4 linked regions of the Homo sapiens genome follow. The protein of the gene in region 4 purifies or fractionates together with the protein of the main gene of each other region. This does not show direct contact. Each region holds a gene or a part of one and is shown on either strand. Other genes may lie near its edges.

Evidence for each region.
Region 1: the proteins of SUFU (region 4) and ARHGAP36 purify together in Homo sapiens (affinity purification with western blotting, with the first as the bait; one study listed by BioGRID). This does not show direct contact.
Region 2: the proteins of SUFU (region 4) and RUNX3 purify together in Homo sapiens (affinity purification with western blotting, with the first as the bait; one study listed by BioGRID). This does not show direct contact.
Region 3: the proteins of SUFU (region 4) and MAP3K3 purify together in Homo sapiens (affinity purification with western blotting; one study listed by BioGRID). This does not show direct contact.

Annotation. Positions count from the first base shown.
Region 1 is NC_000023.11:131,056,390-131,061,594, reverse strand, and holds the start of ARHGAP36 (rho GTPase-activating protein 36 isoform 1 precursor), read right to left. Parts: upstream 3,250-5,205; 5' UTR 3,209-3,249; coding exon of another isoform or gene 3,151-3,208; intron 1-3,150. UniProt on the Homo sapiens protein: GTPase activator for the Rho-type GTPases by converting them to an inactive GDP-bound state.
Region 2 is NC_000001.11:24,902,557-24,906,276, forward strand, and holds part of RUNX3 (runt-related transcription factor 3), read right to left. Parts: intron 111-3,720; coding exon 1-110. UniProt on the Homo sapiens protein: Forms the heterodimeric complex core-binding factor (CBF) with CBFB.
Region 3 is NC_000017.11:63,691,391-63,695,843, reverse strand, and holds part of MAP3K3 (mitogen-activated protein kinase kinase kinase 3), read right to left. Parts: intron 4,112-4,453; coding exon 3,982-4,111; intron 3,603-3,981; coding exon 3,425-3,602; intron 2,296-3,424; coding exon 2,067-2,295; 3' UTR 1-2,066. UniProt on the Homo sapiens protein: Component of a protein kinase signal transduction cascade. Mediates activation of the NF-kappa-B, AP1 and DDIT3 transcriptional regulators.
Region 4 is NC_000010.11:102,594,379-102,598,831, reverse strand, and holds part of SUFU (suppressor of fused homolog), read right to left. Parts: intron 1,696-4,453; coding exon of another isoform or gene 1,693-1,695; coding exon 1,539-1,692; intron 1-1,538. UniProt on the Homo sapiens protein: Negative regulator in the hedgehog/smoothened signaling pathway. Down-regulates GLI1-mediated transactivation of target genes. Down-regulates GLI2-mediated transactivation of target genes. Part of a corepressor complex that acts on DNA-bound GLI1.

The sequences.
Region 1 (5,205 bases), on a different chromosome or scaffold from region 4:
GGTCCCATCTCCAAGAAAAGATCAAATTTGTATGTAAAGTGCGCCCCAGGGTCCCTTCAGCTTTAGAGCTTTGGCTGCTTTACAGAAGTCCAATTGTTTGAGGCCAAATCCAATGCCAAGAGTGAACTGGGGAGAGAATTTCAAGTGGGTCAATTGTGCTGTCTCTTTCCCTGGGAAAGAAGGCCTTTCTGGGCCCTCATTCCTCCCAGACCTCAGTGATGCCTCTCCCAAGTGCCTTCCTATGGTTGCCCATTGCCCGTTGTCGCCCTGAAAAATCTCTCTGATGCAAACCAACGTGGCACATGTATACCTATGTAACAAACCTGCACGTTCTGCACATGTATCCCAGAACTTAAAGTAAATTTTTTTAAAAAAGAGTTGAACAAAAAAAAAAATAGCAAACATCAACAAAAGAGTGATGATATTCTAATGAAGACAAAATAAACCTGCCCCTCAAAAAAAAAATTGCTGTCACATGCCAGCTATCTCTTGGGCAAGGGGAATGGGGGTGAAGGAACATTTAGATACTGCCCCAGTTCTGTCCAGTCAGCTGACAGCTTCCTCCCCCAACCCCATCTCTGACTCCTGAAGACTTCTGAAGGACATTCAAAGGGAGGCACCAAAGCAATTATAGCCCTGCAGAATATCAATAGTTACCCACAAAGTTACCCTTCACATTGTACAGCATTTCTCAGGGGGAGTGCAATGAAATGAGCTGTTGCCCAGTCAAAAAACTACCCAAAGATTATTTATTTCAAAGTGATGCCCTGTGACTTAAGTGAGATTATACATGTAAGCAATTGAGCCTAAGGGCCCAACATTTGGGAAGAGCTTCACATATATCAGCTGCTGTTGTTTGAGTAATAGAGCTGATGTAGGCAGTGGTGTGCTGCAGGGGTATGTTGGGGAACAGGTACCACCAGACTAGAAATGCAGCAGCGAATATAAGGTCTTACACTTGAGTTCAAACACCAAATACAGAATGGAGACTCCAAAAAGAACTTGGGTTTACTTAAGGAAAAAGAGTAGCTTTCGTTGAAAGTAATTCAATGTGAATAAAGTCTTTGTGTGAACTGTGTGGCTGTGCATGGGATTTGTGAGTGGTGCATACACAGGTGATGTGAGTATATTGTGTTGTGTGTGGAAAGTATGTGGTGCATGTGAAGCGTGTGTGTGTGTGTTCGTGGCTTTGCAAATGGGCATGCATAGGTGTGGTAATGTGTATGTTATGGGTGTGTTTATGACTACGTATGTGTGTACCTTGGGTGTGGTGTAGGCTTCTAAAAGAGGGAAAGTCAGCTTTCCAGGACTATATTTATAGGGGCACAGCTGGAAAGCCTCTTTTGGCCTGGTCACTGGACATTTATAACTTGGAGCATGTTCAAAGAAAAGCAGCTAGACATGGGTAGGGGCCTTGAAGCTATGTCACATGTTAAATAGATGAAGAAACTGGGGAAGTTTGGCCTAGGTAAGAACAGGGTGAGTAGGGGATGGGACAATGGGGAGAGCTGACACTGTTTCCTAGGAAGGAGGACCATGGAAGTCAATGCCAGGGCCAGAAGGTGGAAGTTCCCAGGACATAGATTTGGGTTCAGTTTAAAGAAAAGCCTTCTAATTCTAATAGACATTGCTGTTTTTAGATGGGAATGGGCTTCCTGGTGTAATATGGACTCCCTCCTATGTGGTTACTCATAAAGGAGCCTTCATGTCCTTGATCTCATTGGAGTCACATGACAACCTTCTAGTCCAAGCAACTGTGAAATGTTTCCCCCACCCCCTTTTTCAGGGTATACTGTTAGAGCAGTAAGGCCTTAAAAGACATCTTATAAAACTCCCTTATATTTTTGATTCACCAGGATCATATAAACCTTAAAAATATGCAAAAGAAAAAATTAAACTCTGTGTGTATGCAGATCTTTTTCCTTCTCAGAGATCTTGTTGCTGGCCTGAGGCTGTACTTGAACTGCCTAAGCAAGCTGTAGTCTTTCAGCAGGAGGTCAAACTCCTGGGATGGTTCTCAGCAGGGTGTTGGGGCTGGCAAGAACTAAAAACAGGTCTCTGCTGAATTAAGTTGCTGAGGCCCCTCCTTTCCCTGCTTCCCCTCCCCCGCCTGTGAAGGGACAGAGGAAAGAGGAGACAACCCCAGGTTTGGTCTATGGCTGGTGCCCAATGACGCACTCTCACCAATATAGATTTTGGAGGTGGAGACTATGAAAAAACAGGTGGCTGTGGGGGCAGGTGGCAGCCTGAAGGGGGTGGGGCTTATTATCAAGGGGGAGTGAAGGACAGTGTGGGTGGGGGTCCTGGGGTATGTCAAAAAGAAAATATCAGTCTCCTGAAACTTTAAGGATGAAAATATAATCAGTTGTCAAAATGTACTTTGTAGAAGCAGTTCCCGAAAAGGGGTGAAATGTGACCCACATATGCCGGTGCTGTGATCTTTGCACACTTGTGTCCTCAATTCCACAGAAATAGGGAAACCAAGCATTGATCTCAAGTACCCAAGGAAAGAACCCGACTAAAGACCGCAGGGGTCCACTACTGGGCAGTCTGGGGCAGTGGGCAGCTGGCAGAGCCTAAGCTGACCCAGGTATGCTGCCAACCTGTTGGGTAACCTTGGGCAGGCTTTTCCCATCTTCAGTGTCATCATCTCTTAAATGAAGGGGTTAAATTCGACGACTCTAGGGGGTCCATTGCTGATATTCTGTGTTTGAGATTGAGACAAGGGGACGAACTTCAAGGCAAAATGAATACCCGCCTCCTTCAGGGTCCCTGGGGCCTGGCTTGCCCTGTCAGGGACATTCATCCTTGGGCCTTGAGGGTCCTTGAGTTGCGGGACGCCGCTCCTGCGCGTCTGGCCCCAAGGCTCTGGCTGTCCCTGCCGGCGGCTGAGCCAGCGACTCCGCCCACGCGCTCGTCCCGCGTACCGCCGAGCCATTAGCGCGATTGCTCGCGGTTCCCGGCAAAGCTGGTGATTTATGCGGGGCCTCGACGGGGCAGTCCCTTGAGCCAGGAACAATTAGCTAAAAGCCAGCAGGAAGGGAGGCAAGGGGGCGACCAGCCAAGCCCCAGGGCGCCCAGAGGGGGCTGCAGCCGCCGGCCGCCCCCGGCCGAGCACCCCAGCCCCCCGACTCGGTGGGCCCCACTCACCACGGCGGGGGCGGGGCTCAAAGGCCGAGGCGAAAAGGCAGTCCAGTATCCACGCCATGACCCGCGCTGAGTGCCCGGCAGCTCGCAGTTAACCTTTGCGTCGTCCCCCGCACCGGCGGCCCTAAGTAGCCCCCGGTGACCACGCCCTGAGCCGCACCCTGCACCCAGCTAAGAGTGTTTCGGTCACCGGACACCTCGAGCATGTCACGAAGGGGGCAGGGCCTCCGGGGAACCCCCCCTCCTGCCAGAAGAGAGGCCGCTGGTCCCGCAGCCCCTTGCCCCACGCGAAGGGAGGCAGAGACACACAGCTCCTGTCCTGGGAAGCTGATTCTGAGGGCGGGACCCTGCCCCTACCCCAGGGAGCCCAGAGTCTGAGGGGAGACGCCATCTCAGCCCTGGTGAGCCCCAAATCTGAGAGGGAGGGAAGGTCCTTGTCCCCCAGCCCCACCCCAGGAGCCCTTGATCGGGCACATAAAAGCAGGCCTGCCCCCAAAGGCTGGAATTTGAAGGCGAGGTAGCGCACCTGTCCCAGGGAGCCTCAGATCTGAGAGCGAGACAGTATCCCAGGCTCTAGAAAACTCCACGATTTAGCGGAGCGTTATCTCAGCCCTCAAGAGGCCTAGTCTAAGCGGGAAGCAGTGTGTTCCCCAGGATCCCTGAATCTAAAGGGGAGATGCTGTCTCAGCCCTTGGGGACCCTCCCACCCCCACCCTTAACCCCTCTCTTAGGGCAGGCATCACCTCAGCCCCGAGTAGCTCCAAGTCTGATTTAAATCACTGGTCCGTTCTAGAGGACCAAGAATGTGAGCAGGAAAAACGATTTTGCCGCCTCCCCCAAGAAGTCCCATATCTGAGAGTAATCTTACTTCCCTTCTCCTGCGAATTCCGCAGCGAAGAGGGAGATGCTCTCCTGCCTGGGAACCTTTGTACTGAGGGGGTTGATCATCAACTGAGATAAAAGAACCCAGTGTCAAGTATGTATAAACGTGGGGTGCCCCCCAGTTGCTGCCGACTTACAGATTCCACTGCCAATGCTTTTGCTCAGGGCACTGATATGGGAGGGGGACCCACATTTATTTTTAGAAAGAATTTGATATTTGATATTTCAATGGAGGGTGGTACTGTGTTGGATTTTCTTACACTTCTTTTATGGCTTTGTATTTTTACGTTTTAAATACATATGGAAGCACGTGCCATAATGGGTTCAGTGTTTGGGGCCTCTGGTGGTGGTAAAAAGAGCCCTGCCCCCCAAATCCTGGGGTAGAAGCAGCCACCAGAGATGGACCACATTAGGCAGGAAGGGCTTCTAAACGAAATTTCCTTTTTACTTCAAGCCCAGGGGCCCAAATTAATTTCTCTCCCAATTCGCCAGTGGTAGCTCCACAGACGTGACTCTGTGCCTTGTTTTTCTCCACTGGGAGAATGGGGCTCTGTTGATCAAAATGCTAGTGAGGAGGTAGAAAGAAATATGGAAAATCTCCTTCCAACAGTTCGATTGCAGGCCAGAGGAGTGGAAGCCTCAATCACTGGGTCCACTGGGGAGAGCAGTTATTATATTTGCTTTGCTAACCACTGATATTAGTATTAATGCGGCAAAAGGGGTGCATAAAATGGAAAAATTGCCTGTACTTTGCTGTACAATTCTTAGCAAAGCAGAGCTATCTTCAGAGTTTAAAGGCCCTCCACTTGTTTTCCTTCCTTTCTGGGAAAAATGGTACCTCTCTGCCTTTGTACCAACTTCTAAATCATTTTGATTTTCTCTGTTTTCTAAAAGCAATCACAGACAACAAACACTCACCAGACCTGCTCTTTTACCGATTTCTTCTTTACGAATACTTAGTCATCCAAGCCAAACAAGCCTAACATCTAGAAATGTCCAGTTTCAGGCCCTGGATATTGAAATCTCAGCCTTACCTCTTCCCATGAGCTTATCCAGCACCAGCTTTTGAAATGGCCTCAATGGGTTCCTTTTTTTTCCAACTGAATGAGCTTTTTTTGGGCTCCCTCATGGCACAAAATCTGCCTGCTTGGTCCAATCCCAGAGTCCTCGGAAACT
Region 2 (3,720 bases), on a different chromosome or scaffold from region 4:
GGGATAATGCATCCTGGGGTCTGGGAAGCGGCTCTCCGTGAGGGTTGGCAGCGTGGGGAAGGAGCGGTCAAACTGGCGGGGGTCGGAGAATGGGTTCAGTTCCGAGGTGCCTGGAGGACAGCAGGGAAGAGGTCAGTTCCAGCTCGAGACAACCCCAGGAGGGCTTCCTGAAGAATGACCTTGGGCTCTGGTTCCCAAGGCCCATCTGGGGGACCCCTAGTTCTAGACCTGGCTCTCCTCTTCCTGCCCTAGGCTGCCCGGGGCCTCCCCCGCCAGGACTCCGAACACAGACCTGCCGGGAAGCTGGTTGGAGCGTGCCCCGGGCCAAGAGGGGCCATGGGAGCCCCCCCACAGCAGCAACAGAACAGAGGAGGGGGTCTATTCTTCTTTTTAAATCCTCCTTCCCAGCCTCGCAGAGGAGAGGCCTAGGATGCGGTGGTGGGGCTGAGGGCAGAGTCAGCTCAGGCCTCCCAGCAGCCCTGCCCAGGCAGGTTCCTCTCCCCACCGGCCCATGTTAACAGCTGGGAAGGCCGTGGATGTGTAAAGGGCTCCAATGACCGTGTGAGACTGGGAGTTGGAACCCGCTTTTGAAGACAAGAAAATGGAGGCAGAGAGAGAGCAAGACTGAGTCTCTGTGGCAGAGAAAGGACTGGTTCTCATCACAAGGCCTCTGCTGGGGACACACGTGCCTCTCCTGCCCAGGTGCAGCACGCGGAGGTTCTGTGCGCTCACACCTGGGTTGTGGGCACTGAGTTCACAGGAGCTCTGGCCTCCACCTCACCCTGGGCCTGTGTCTCTGGAGCCGACTCGTGGCCACACAGTGACTGGATGCCACCCTAACCTGCCTTGGCAGCAAAGTGAGACAGCAGTCAGACAAACTTGGGGACCCAGACCCCAACCTGGTCACAGTGTCCAGCCCAGACTCTGCCCCTGCTCCCCCAGGAATGTGGCTTCTCAATGGGCTCCAAGGCAAGGGTGTTCCATCCTCTGTCCCCAACTTTTGTCATCACAGACCCCCAAAACCTCAGCATTCAAAGGGGCTCAGGGATTGAGTCTAACACCCTTGATGGGGAAACTGAGGCCCAGACAGGGTGAGGCACTTCCCTCAGGGTCACACAGCACATTGGACCTGGCACACAATCCTAGGGCCTCTGGTCCTGAGCCCCAACACGTACTTGAGAGGGAGCTGTCCCGTCTTTGAGGCAGCACAGGATCAAGGCTTACTGTGTGGCTTCTGGAGCCGGACAGTTATCCTGGTTTGGACACTTACTAGCTTTGTGTCCTTGGGCAAGTCACTTAACCTCTCTGCGCATCAGTTTCCCCATATAAAACATGAGACGATAACAGTTCATCAGGATTCAGTTAATTCACATCGAGTACTTAGAATGGCACTGGGCACAGAGCAGGGGTCCATGAGGCTTTGCAAGGCCACTGTGGCTGTGGTGTCTCTTACTCTGGGTACCCAGGAGAACTGGCTCATTCAGGGCCCTGCCAAGTTGAGGCCCTGGTGCAGGGCCTCCCTTCTACTCTGGCAGCCGGGGGAGGTGGATGAGCCCCCAGCAGTGGTCCAGAGGTGCAGTCTGTCCAGCCCAGCAACCCCTCTGTGTCACCCACCAAAGGATAAGGGCCGGTGCTAGCCGGAGTGGGCTCTGCCTGCCACGCCGAGGCTTGGCTGAGGACGGAGAGCTATGAGCCTGAGGTGTGTGTGACTTCGGCTGGGACTTGGAACTTCTCGGGGCTTTGGGGTCTTCCCAAGTCAGCTGGGGTATGTTTCCCTCAGCAGCGTACTCTGGCCCTGGGCGTGGATCCGAACGGAGTGATGCTCCTGGCTTAAGGTAAGAAGATGTGGGGACAGCAGTCTGGGTGGCGGGGGCCTTCTGGGACATCTGGGATGTTCCCTAGTAGGTCACTTGGCTGTCCCGGCCCCTTGAGGCCGAGAGCCTCCGAGGCACCTGGCTGCCAGTTTTCATCTGGGGAGCCCCTCGGGGGGAGAGGTCCTGTTGCAGGTGCTGGGCACGTCAGCACAGCTGAGATGGGTGGGGTGGAAGTGGGTGCTGGCCGCCTGATGGGAACCCCATTCTCAAGACGAAGGAAACAAATGGGGACCGCAGGATACAACGGCAGGACTGTGCCCCTCAGAGCTCACGCGGGCTGCAGGGCGCTGGGCTGGGCCTCCCTGGACCTGCCACCATCCCCTCCAGCCTCTTTCCTCAGGGCCACCACCCCTCCTCCGGGGTGGTGGGGGAAGTACCTGCCCTCAGCACTCCCTCAGACCCCCCAGCAGCTTCCTTGGAGCTCCTGTACCCCCACCCTGCGGCCTCGCAGCCCCAGGAAACCCGAGCTGCCCGGGGCACTGTCGAGTGGCCAATCCCAACAGTGGAAAGAAATGTTTATTTTCTTCTCCAGATTGTCCGGGCTGCTGCATGGTGGCTGAATGAGCCCTTTCAGCTGTGAGAAGCCCCCATTGTGGGCGGCTGCGGCTGGGGGCTGGGGCTGGGGTATGGGAGGTGCTGGGGTCTCTGCACTGCTTGCCAGTGACCAATATTGGAGGGTCAAAGCACTTAACAGGCACCGAGGGAAGTGGTGGTGGGGTGTCCCAAGGGGGATCCCCAGGAGGGAGTCCGAGGGCAGAGGGAGGAGGGCCTGTGAGAGTGACTTCCCAAGCCTAGGTCTGCCAGCAACCCCTCTTTGTCAGGGACCTCCTTCTCCCCACTTCACAGATGAGAAAACTGAGGCTGAGTTTAAGTGACTTGTCTAAGATCATACAGCCAATGCCTGGCAGAGCCTGAATTCCTAGCCTGGTCCAGCTGACTGCAGAGTTCATGCTCGCCCTGTCCTGGTCATCCGAGGCCCTTTCTCTCACCCAAAGGGGATGGGCCTGAGGATGGAGATGCCTGGCTGCCTGTGGCCCAGTGCTGTGGGGGGCTAGCGAGGGACTGGGCCAGGCCTCAGGAGGGAGCAGGCAGAGAAGCAGAAGTCAGCCACTGCCCCACACAGGCTGGGCTCCTTTCCTCCCAGCCCAGGATGGAAGCAGCAGCTGTGCCTGCCGTGGGGCCAGGCATTGATTCCCAAGCTGTGCCCACCCAGCAGTGGATGGGCAGATGTGGGCTCTCCTTCCATGGGGGCTGGTGGACAGGAAGCCACTGTTCACCCCACCTCCTGGATTCTGGCTCCCCCGCTGAGCCCCGATCCCCTGGCCTGGCTCTGTCCATGGCAGAGAAAGGCTGGCTCTCAGGCTACTGCACCTCGACAGATGCTGGCCCATGGGTAGCAGAAGCAGAGGCAGCTACGCGGCAGGGGTGGGCGTGAGCACAGCGTGCAGGGCTCCTTCCGCTACCTCTTGAGAGCAGACCTCCAACTCCTGGGCTCGAGAGCTGAGAGTCTCAAATGCACTAGCTCCTGGGCTCAGAGAGGCTGGGCCTGGGGCTTCTCCCAACCTTGGCGTCTCAGCAGGACCAAGGCCAAAAGTCCTGAGCCCAGGCCAGAAGGGGAGGGGTCCTCTCTTCACACTGAAGGCCTGCATCCAGCCCCTGGCTGCAGCACTATGCCTGGAACAATGTCAGTAGAGAGACCCAGTCGGCCCCCACCTCAGCGTGGCACCGGAAAAGGGGGTGGGGCAGGCAGACCGGTTGGCAGCCCTGTTCCAGGCCCCTTTATCTGTCCCCTCAGAAGTACAGAAAGTTCTTGGGAGCAGGTACTGTGGAGACTGTGGACCTGGTC
Region 3 (4,453 bases), on a different chromosome or scaffold from region 4:
GGGTCTGTTTTGCTTTTTTGGAGTGCAGGGTTTGTTGGCTTGTCTTCAAATTCATTTTCAAAACACATTCCCAGTGAGGTAAGACCCCAGGGGGTGGAGCTCTGTAAGACCCTGAACCTGGGACGCACAGTTGAGTCAGCCAGCACCGTGCTCTGTATCCTCTTGGGGAACAGGGACTGGGGATGGGGGTGCGGGCCAGGAAGAGTGTGCAGCCACCAAGATGGGGTCGTAGAGAGGCCGAGCTGCCACACAGCAGCTTTGGTCAAGATGAGGGCCAGGCCCCACCCTGGGCAAGGGCCGAGGTGGAAGCAGGAGCCTGTGTTGTCTTCAGAGGGCAGTGTGGGGTACAGGGGCTGATAGAGCCCCTGGGGGAACAGGGATGGACACAGGAGGGTCCAGGCCCAACTGGCGCATGCGACACACACTTCTGCAAAACCAGCTGCTTTCATTTTCTCTTCTCTCTCTTGAGGCGTCCGTCACCTGTAACAGTCTAGAATTGATATATATAAAAACCATCAAATATGATCTGAGATATAAATTAACAAGTACAAGGCCTCACATTACATGATGTGAAAAGGCTAAAAACAGCGATAGAAACTACATTCATAAAAGTGCATCGTCAACATACAACGAAGGCTTTGGCTTGTTCTGTGCCCATGGGGATGTAGGCATGGCTGGCAGGGCTGCCTGGCACTAATCCCCAGCTCCCTGGAGATGCCCATCCCTGGGCACTGGCTTTTTTTTTTTTTTTTTTCCTTTAATGACAACTCCCAAGGAAACTGGGTGTTGAGAGGGAGGAGCTCTAGCAATAGGCACATTTTGGAGGGGAGGGGCCGGAAGAAAGGACCAGCGCCCAGGCTGAGGTAAATATGGCCAACTCTAAGCTGCTTGGAGATGCTGTTTCCCCAACCCCTGCTGCCATTCCCCCTCCAGGGGAGGAGCTACAAGGGAAAGGGGCTGAGACCTCAAGGGGATGGGCGAGGCTGGCTGAGGAAGAACAGAGCTGGCGGTTTTGGACACAGCTGGTGGTAGCATATGGGCTTTCCCTTCTACCAGATGGAGTGGGCTCTGGCCTAGCAGGTCACGACTCAGGCAGCCTGAGACACCTCCTCGGGCTCTCTGGGATCAGGGCACTGGCCAGGCCAGATGCCCCGACCGTGTCGTCCATCTCCCCTTCTGCTCCAGTGGGGAACAAAGGCTGGGCCAGGAGCGCAAAGGCCACAACCTTCAGCTCTTTTCAATGCAGCCTAGGCCCAAGCCCAAAGCAGGGGTACTCAGAGCCCAGAGGGCACACACAGTCTCCAGTTTAGAAACTGGGTACAGCATAAGAGTGACTCCAACTTGTAAAACAGAGACAACTGCATTGACAAAACTGGATCCCCCCTCAGTGGCAGCAGTTCCACATCGCGGGCCCCTGCCTGGGAGAGGCAGGGTCATGGCCACAGGCAGGACAGGCTCCTCCTTCCCTGAATAAGGCAGCATGACATTTGCTTCATTCATCTTTGGTAAAGGACAGGACTGGCAGAGCCAACCTGGGACTCTAGGGGACGGCAGCCTGGGCCTCTGCCTGCCACTGCTAGCGAGTGCTGGCCTTTCCCTCAGGCTTGTGGGAGCTCATCCAGCCCAGAGATGCCCTGGTGGTCTCCAGACATTGGAAGGAAAAACAAAATAACACTTTGAATGAAAATAACACTCTTCATACCCTGGCGTCAGTCTTGTGCCCCCAGACCCTCTGGGCTTCGGTGCCAATTGCAGTGTCAGGACACATCCCCGAGGGTGGGGCCCACGGCTGCCTTGCACACTGTTCCCAGCCCCTACCCCTCCACGCTGAGCTCAGGACACTGGAGCTCCTGGATCTGACAGGCTGGGGGCTCCCAGTCCTGAGGCTGCAGCCACCCCACCCCGGCTCTGAGCCCCAGTGGCGGAAGGGGCACAGACCGACGCTGGCTGGGCTGCCACTCCATGGTCCACAGCCTTGCCTGGGAGAAGCAGCAACTTCACTGAGCCCAGCAGCAGCCCCCTGCCATGCAGCAAAGGGCGACCGGCAGCTGTGTGGCCGTGAGAGCTCAGTACATGAGCTGTGCAAAGTGGTGTGTGAGCAGCTCCTCAGCTGAAGGTCTCTGGCGAGCCTCCACAAAAATGCGCCTCAGGAAGTCCCGGCCATGTTCAGAGATGTGGGAGGGCAGCTGAGGATTGGTGGGCTGGGTGGCAATCTTGAAGATGGCGGCCATAGCTTCATACTCTGCCCACGGTGGTTTCTCTGTCAGCATCTCCACCACAGTGCAGCCCAGGCTCCTGGAAAGAGAGAACCCCGTGTCACCCCTCAGCCAGCCCTGGACTCCCAGCTGTCCTGCCCACCACTGCAGAAAGAGGCGCCTTTCTCACAGCAAGCTGAGGTGCAGGACAGGCCAAGCTGAGGGATACCTCAGCTTGGATGTCTGTCCACGTGGGCTTCATGGACCTACACTCACCACACACCTGGGTACTTCTTGAAATAAGGAAAAAGAGAATCACTTAGACTTGACAGAAAGAACTCTACAATAACTGTATTAGCTACCCATAGCTGCTCTTAACAAATGACCACAAACTTAGAGGCAGGAAAACAACACAAATGTATCATCTTACAGTTCTGAAGGTCAGAGGTCTAAAATCAGTCTCACAGGGCTAAAGTCAAGGTGGCGGCAGGGCTGGTTCCTGTCAGAGGCTCTGAGGGGAGAACCTGTTTCCTTGCCTTTCCTGGGTTCTAGAGGCCACCTGCATTTCGTGGCTCATGGTCCCCTCCTTGTATTACTCCAACCTCTTGCTTTCATTGTCTCACCTCCTATTAGCCACTCTGACCTCTTGAGACCCTTCTGTAAGGACCCTTAATCCAGGATAATCCATCCATCTCAAAACCCTTAACCTAATCCTATCTGCAAAGGCCCTTTGCTATATACAATCACATTTACAGATCCAGGGATTAGGCAGTGGACATCTTTGGGGGGGCCATTATTCAGCCCACCACAATAGCTTTCCAAGGGGAGAAGCTCTCCTGACTTAGGGGCCATTTCAGAGGATAGACACAAGGTTATGTCGAGCAAGTGCAAACTGTCTTGAGTGCTAGGAGAAGGGACAGAAGCCTGCTCCTGTTGAGAGACTGGTCCAGGCCTTCAGGCCTTCAGAGTGGATCCTGCTTCCTTAAGAGATTTAGCAAACATGAGGGATGTTTTCCATGGCCTAAGTTCCCAGCTCTAATGGAGTGTGCTTTGAGCACCACCCATGTGGTGTGTGTGCTACTGCACCCAATAATACCCTTGCACACACTGCAGCCTGGGCCCTGGGCACACTCCCTCCTGCCACACCACAAAGTCCCCAGGGTGTGTTTCTAATGGGGGGCCACTATGGCCTGGGTGGAAGAATGGGTTCTGCATGTCCCAGTGCTCACCACACGTCTGCTTTCCTTCCATAGCCCTCGCCGCTGATCACCTCAGGGCTCATCCAGTAGGGTGTGCCAGTGACGGAGCGCATGCCCGTCCCCGACATACAGATCGTCTGCAGGCGTTTGCTGGCCCCAAAGTCCCCCAGCTTTACATTCCCAGCAGAGTCTCGGAGGATGTTGGCTCCTGAGGCATGAAAGGGCAGAGGCTGCAACCCTGGACCCTCTTGCATTTTCTCCCATCCTCCCCACCCCCGGGTCACTGAGAGCTGCTGGAGAGGGCAGGGCTACCACTGAATTAGACATGAACTGCAAAGGGCAAAGGATTTAGCAAAGGGGAGTCTCAGATCTACCGCACAAAATGACCATCTCCAAGGCCCACATGTAGAGGGAACTTGGCAATATTCTCTCATATTGCTCAACCAATCTCACCAGTTCCTCAGGGAAACAACTGGGGTCCCACTTTTCAGAAAGTTCAGAATGGTTAAGTGATTGGCCCCTGCAGGCACTCAATGGTAGACTTGAACCCAGGTCCTGGGGACTCCATGTATCCTGGCCCTGCTCACCCTTAATGTCCCGGTGAACAATCATGTTGCTGTGCAGGTAGGACATGCCCTCCAGGATCTGCCGCGTGTACTTTCGGGTCACGCTCTCTGTCAGAGCACCGTAAGCCTTCAACTGGTCTTTCACCGAGCCCTGGAGGCCACAAGAAGTCAGAGGAGTCCCCTCAGGGGAGGGCTGGTGGAGGGGCAAGCCCATTCCAGCCCCCAGCATGGCAGCAAAGGAGTGATTTGTTCAATTCCTATCTGGCTGGGCAGGGCATTTTGCCAGGAGCTGTCAGGCAGTTTGGAAAAGAGAGTACCCCAAGTCCTTCTCAAGCAGAGCGCCACCCAAATCCAGGAGCAGGGAGGCCTCTCTGCTCCAGATGAAGGCTGCATTTACTGGACAGTGGGCCAGCCCTGCATGCCTCAGGGGAGTGCTGGACCTAGGACAGCTGTCATCTCATACTCCCACTGCAACCTGAGGCAGGGCCCTCCT
Region 4 (4,453 bases):
TTTGCTGGTCTTTGGGATGAAGCTTACTAGTCTGGTCCCCTGTATTGAGATTTGGATCTAAATTTACCTCTGCAAACTGTAAACAGATACAAAAAAGCAAATTAAAATTAGTTGCTCAAAGAGTGGCCTTAGAGTGGGAAGGAGATGATTACTAACTTTTCTAACTATTTGACTTGTTACAGTGGAATGGATTACTTTTACAATTTTTAAAAATAGCCAGTAATGACTGAAATTTTAGACAAGACTATGACTCCCTCTTTAAATCACCTCTTTTGTCAAAAGCAACCAAATGATTCCAATAACTGTATACCCTCTCTTTGAGCCTCCAATAGGCTTGGCATGCCATTAGAACAAACAGGAAGGAAAGAAAGGGCTTGGCCGGGTGCGGTGGCTCACATCTGTAATCCCAGCACTTCGGGAGGCTGAGGCGGGTGGATTGTTTTGAGCTCAGGAGTTTAAGACCAGCGTGGGCAACACAGCGAAGCCCTGACTCTACAAAAAAATACAAAAATTAGCTGGGCGTTGGTGGCTCACGCCTGTAGTCCCAGCTACTTGGGATGCTGAGGCTGGAGAATCACTTCAGCCTGGGAAGCAGAGGTTGCAGTGAGCCAAGATCAACCCACTGTACTCCAGCCTGGGCAACAGAGACCCCTGTTTCAAAGAAAAAAAAAAAGAAAGGGCTCAAATATTTGCACTAGGAGTTTAAGTTTGTCCTTTACAGAACGAACAAAAACCTTTTATAAGTGTTATCATATATGTAAGGATTTTATTCAGGGCTGTAGACATCTTATTCTTCAAAAAAAGAAAAGATGGAAGAATGAAGAAAGGAAGTAGACAAAGAAGCTGTCAACACATGTATATGTAAGTGGCTGCTTCTCCTTTGCAGTTAGCTGGGGACGCCCTCTACTAAAAACCACAACTGTTTCTGTAGCCAAGATCAGCACAGGGAGATTCCAACAGGACAGCCACATCCTCCTTCCCAAAGACCCCATCCGGAACACGGTGGGTCCAGAGGCCCTGCCCACAGCCCCTAACCCTGTATCTATATGACAGGAGGTGGGCAATTTGCAAGCCAGCCTCACACTCAGGCCTCATTTGTTGAAGGCCTGGGAGGGCCCGAGGCCAGAGTGATCCTTGGATCTGGCATGGCCTTCAGGCCAGAGCTGGGCCCTGTGTCAATTCCGTGGGTGGCCGACACTTTTCTCTTGCACTTGGGTGGACTATGGACTTTTCCTGTAACTGTTCTGAGGCTTCCACTCACCTCCATGACCTCAGATTGCAAAGGGCATATCTAAAACACAACGGTGCCTGCTGGTGATGCATTTGAAATACACACAGGAAACACAACTAGGAATGGGCCAATAAAGCTCCCTTAATTCCGCCCTGCTGGAAGACTTCACTTGCTGTTTAAATCATGCCAGGAAATAAACTATTGAATGGGTTGTTTTTGTTAGAGACCCATCCTAGAGAGACTGGAAACCAGGCCCTGGGGAAAAGGAAGGAGGAAGGCTGGTGGAATGCTGAGTGATGGCTCCCACCTTTGCCAGAGAGTCGCCGGGGCTGTGTGCCGATGCAGATGCTCCGGCTGTCCTCGTCATCCTCGGGGGGCCGGCTCAGGTCATCCCAGGCACACTTGGCACTGACACCACTCAGGTTGGAGCCATCTGTCTCGATGCCTTTGTCAACTCTCTCCTGCTTGAAAAGAACCAAAGAGCCAGAGTTCTTTCAGAGAACTGGTGACCCAAGGTGACCACCCTTTCAGCCACTGCTCTTACAGTATTTACTGAGCCCTTGTGGTGCTGAGCATGGGACAAATGCTGGAGAGCAGGATCTCTGACCTTGTTCTGCCCTGGTTACCAATGCATGATGGTCTCTGCCAGCTCCTGGACTCCTCCAGGGGAACCAGGGATTAGGGGAAGCCAGGAGGAATGCAAATCCCAAGGGAAACATCTCTTCTACCATCAGCCTTCCAGCACAATGGCCTCTACCTGTTTCAGAGCCCCAAACCTGTCCCCGCCACGCTGGCTGGTGGGGCTGATGTGGCCATGAGAGAGCCTACTTCTCTGAGGAGAGGTGTGATCCTTCCTCTCCTCCCGATCTTCAGGCAGAACCTCCCAGTCACTGCTATAGAAAACAGGGTGGAAGCCTGCCACAGGCAACAGGCCACACCTGCAGTTTCCCCTTCTAACAGCTAGAGGGTGTGGTCACACAGGGAAGAGCCACTGGAGAACAAAGGCTGGACTTCCCTAGATGCATTGGTTCCCTTGTTTAGCAAAGGACTCTGGATGGAGATTCCTTCCCATTTCTTAGACTGAAATGGGGGCCTAGAGTGCAGTGACTATCTGCAGACACCCTTCTCTCCCCATCGAGACCCTGCCTTTGTGCAGGCCTTGGTACTGCTGAGTACAAACACTCTCCAAATGGCTTCAAGGAAGAGTTGTACTCAAAACATCCCTGGATTTTCTGGTAAAACACAGTTCATTGATGCTGGACCTTGAATTAAAAGTCATCTGGAAGGCTCTATGTCCATGTGGGCCAAATCAAGCTTGTGACTGAGCATCTCAACAATAATCTGTGCTTCCCGGCTCCACAGGTACCACACTGGCCTGCTGATCAGCCCAGAAGCCCCATGTGGGAGAAGTACAGGTACTGTCCTTATTTCCTGGGACCAGTCAGCAAGTGGCTCTGCCCCAGACGCCTCCTTCCCATCAGTCATCTCCTCCTTTCAAGTGCTAATGCTGGCCTGGGCAAAGCTGTGGGTTCCGAGCAGGAAGAGGCTAAGCAGGGAAGCGCTCTGTGTACTCTGGGCAGGGAGCATGTATACCCTGGTGTGCTCAGGGGATAGTCTGAGCTTTTTCCTCTGCACTGGCTGCCCTGGGGTCCCTCACTTAGGTAAAGAGTTGCAGACAGACAATTCTTGGCTCAACTTGTCTGGGCTATTTACTTTATAAGTAAAAAGAAAAAGTTAAGACCCAGAAGGCGAGGGACTTATTTGGGCACACAGCTGGTTAGTGTAGAGCTTGAATCACAGGAATATATGCCAGCTCTAAAGAGACTGATAGCAAGCAGGCCCCAGAAAGGCACAGTGAATACAGAGGAGTTCACACTTGGTGCACAGAGCCACCAGGAAAGAAAGCTGTCCTTTGTTCCTGTGGGACCCTGGCTTGCTTTCAAAGACCACTAGGTGCTCCGGGTCCTGTGGGCTGCTCTCAGGGGATCCTGCAGACTAGGAAGAACAGCCCTTGGCATGGAAGGACAGCTGTTTACCCTACTAGTGCAAAGGACCAGGTTCTTTCTTAGTACTTGGCACTTATGACAGGGGCCAAACAACGGCCCACAGTGCCCCATGCTGGATCCCAGTGTGGCTACAGAACAAGGGCTTAGGGAAAGATAGCCTTCCTGGTTCCTGGTTCTTGCATATGCAGAAGATACAAGGAAACCAAGTTTAAAGCAGAGAGAACAGAGGATCCTGGCAGCAGTTTGAAATGTTCAGTGTTAAAGGCACTAGGAAAACAGAGGAGCATCATCTGTGAATGAAGAGGATTTATGCCCAAGAACTCACAAGTCTACAGTGAAGAACTCAGGGGCTGCTGGCTACATGTCCATCTGCCACCTTTCTCTTGCTCTAACACATGGAACTCCCGGCAACTGCCTGTGGCCTACCAGATATTTTACAGAAGCATGGCAGGTTTAGAGATGGCAATGACCTGCATTTGGTCAGGGGAGTAGAAGGAGCCAGACACCAGGCAGGTAACATTATTAGCTGTCTGTGGCTCCTGCTTCAAGAGAAGCCCATAAGAAAGGCAGTTATGGGCCAGGCGCACTAGCTCAAACCTGTAATCCCAGCACTTTGGGAGGCCGAGGCGGGCGGATCATCTGAGGTCAAGAGTTCGAGACCAGCCTGGCCAACATGGTGAAACCCTGTCTCTACTAAAAATACAAAAAATTATCTGGGCGTGGTGGTGGGCGCCTGTAATCTCAGCTACTCGGGAGGCTGAGGCAGGAGAACTGCTTGACCCTGGGAGGCGGAGGCTGCAGTAAGCCGAGATTGTGCCACTGCACTCCAGGCTGGGTGAGAAGAGCGAAACTCCGTCTCAAAAAAAGAAAAGGCAGTTACGTTCTTGTGGCTTTCAAACTTTACCTGCATGACAAAGGAATGCTTCTAAAACAGCAAAGATGACACTGAAACAATGTCCAGGTGGGCCACAGGGAGTGGGCAGCTGCCAGCCTGTGTGTCTAAGGTGCCAATCTTTCCAGGCTAGGAGCTCTGCATCTGACTGTCCAAGATAGAAAATGTGGCGAAAATGGGGATAGGACCATTAGACCAATCAGCCCTCACTCCTGCAGCTGAGCCATGGAGTCAGTATCACCTACACTACTGTCTGGTACAGGGCGGTGGTGGCCGTGGTGGCTCCCTAAAAGAAAGTCTGGGAGGCAGGAGAATGAATACTGG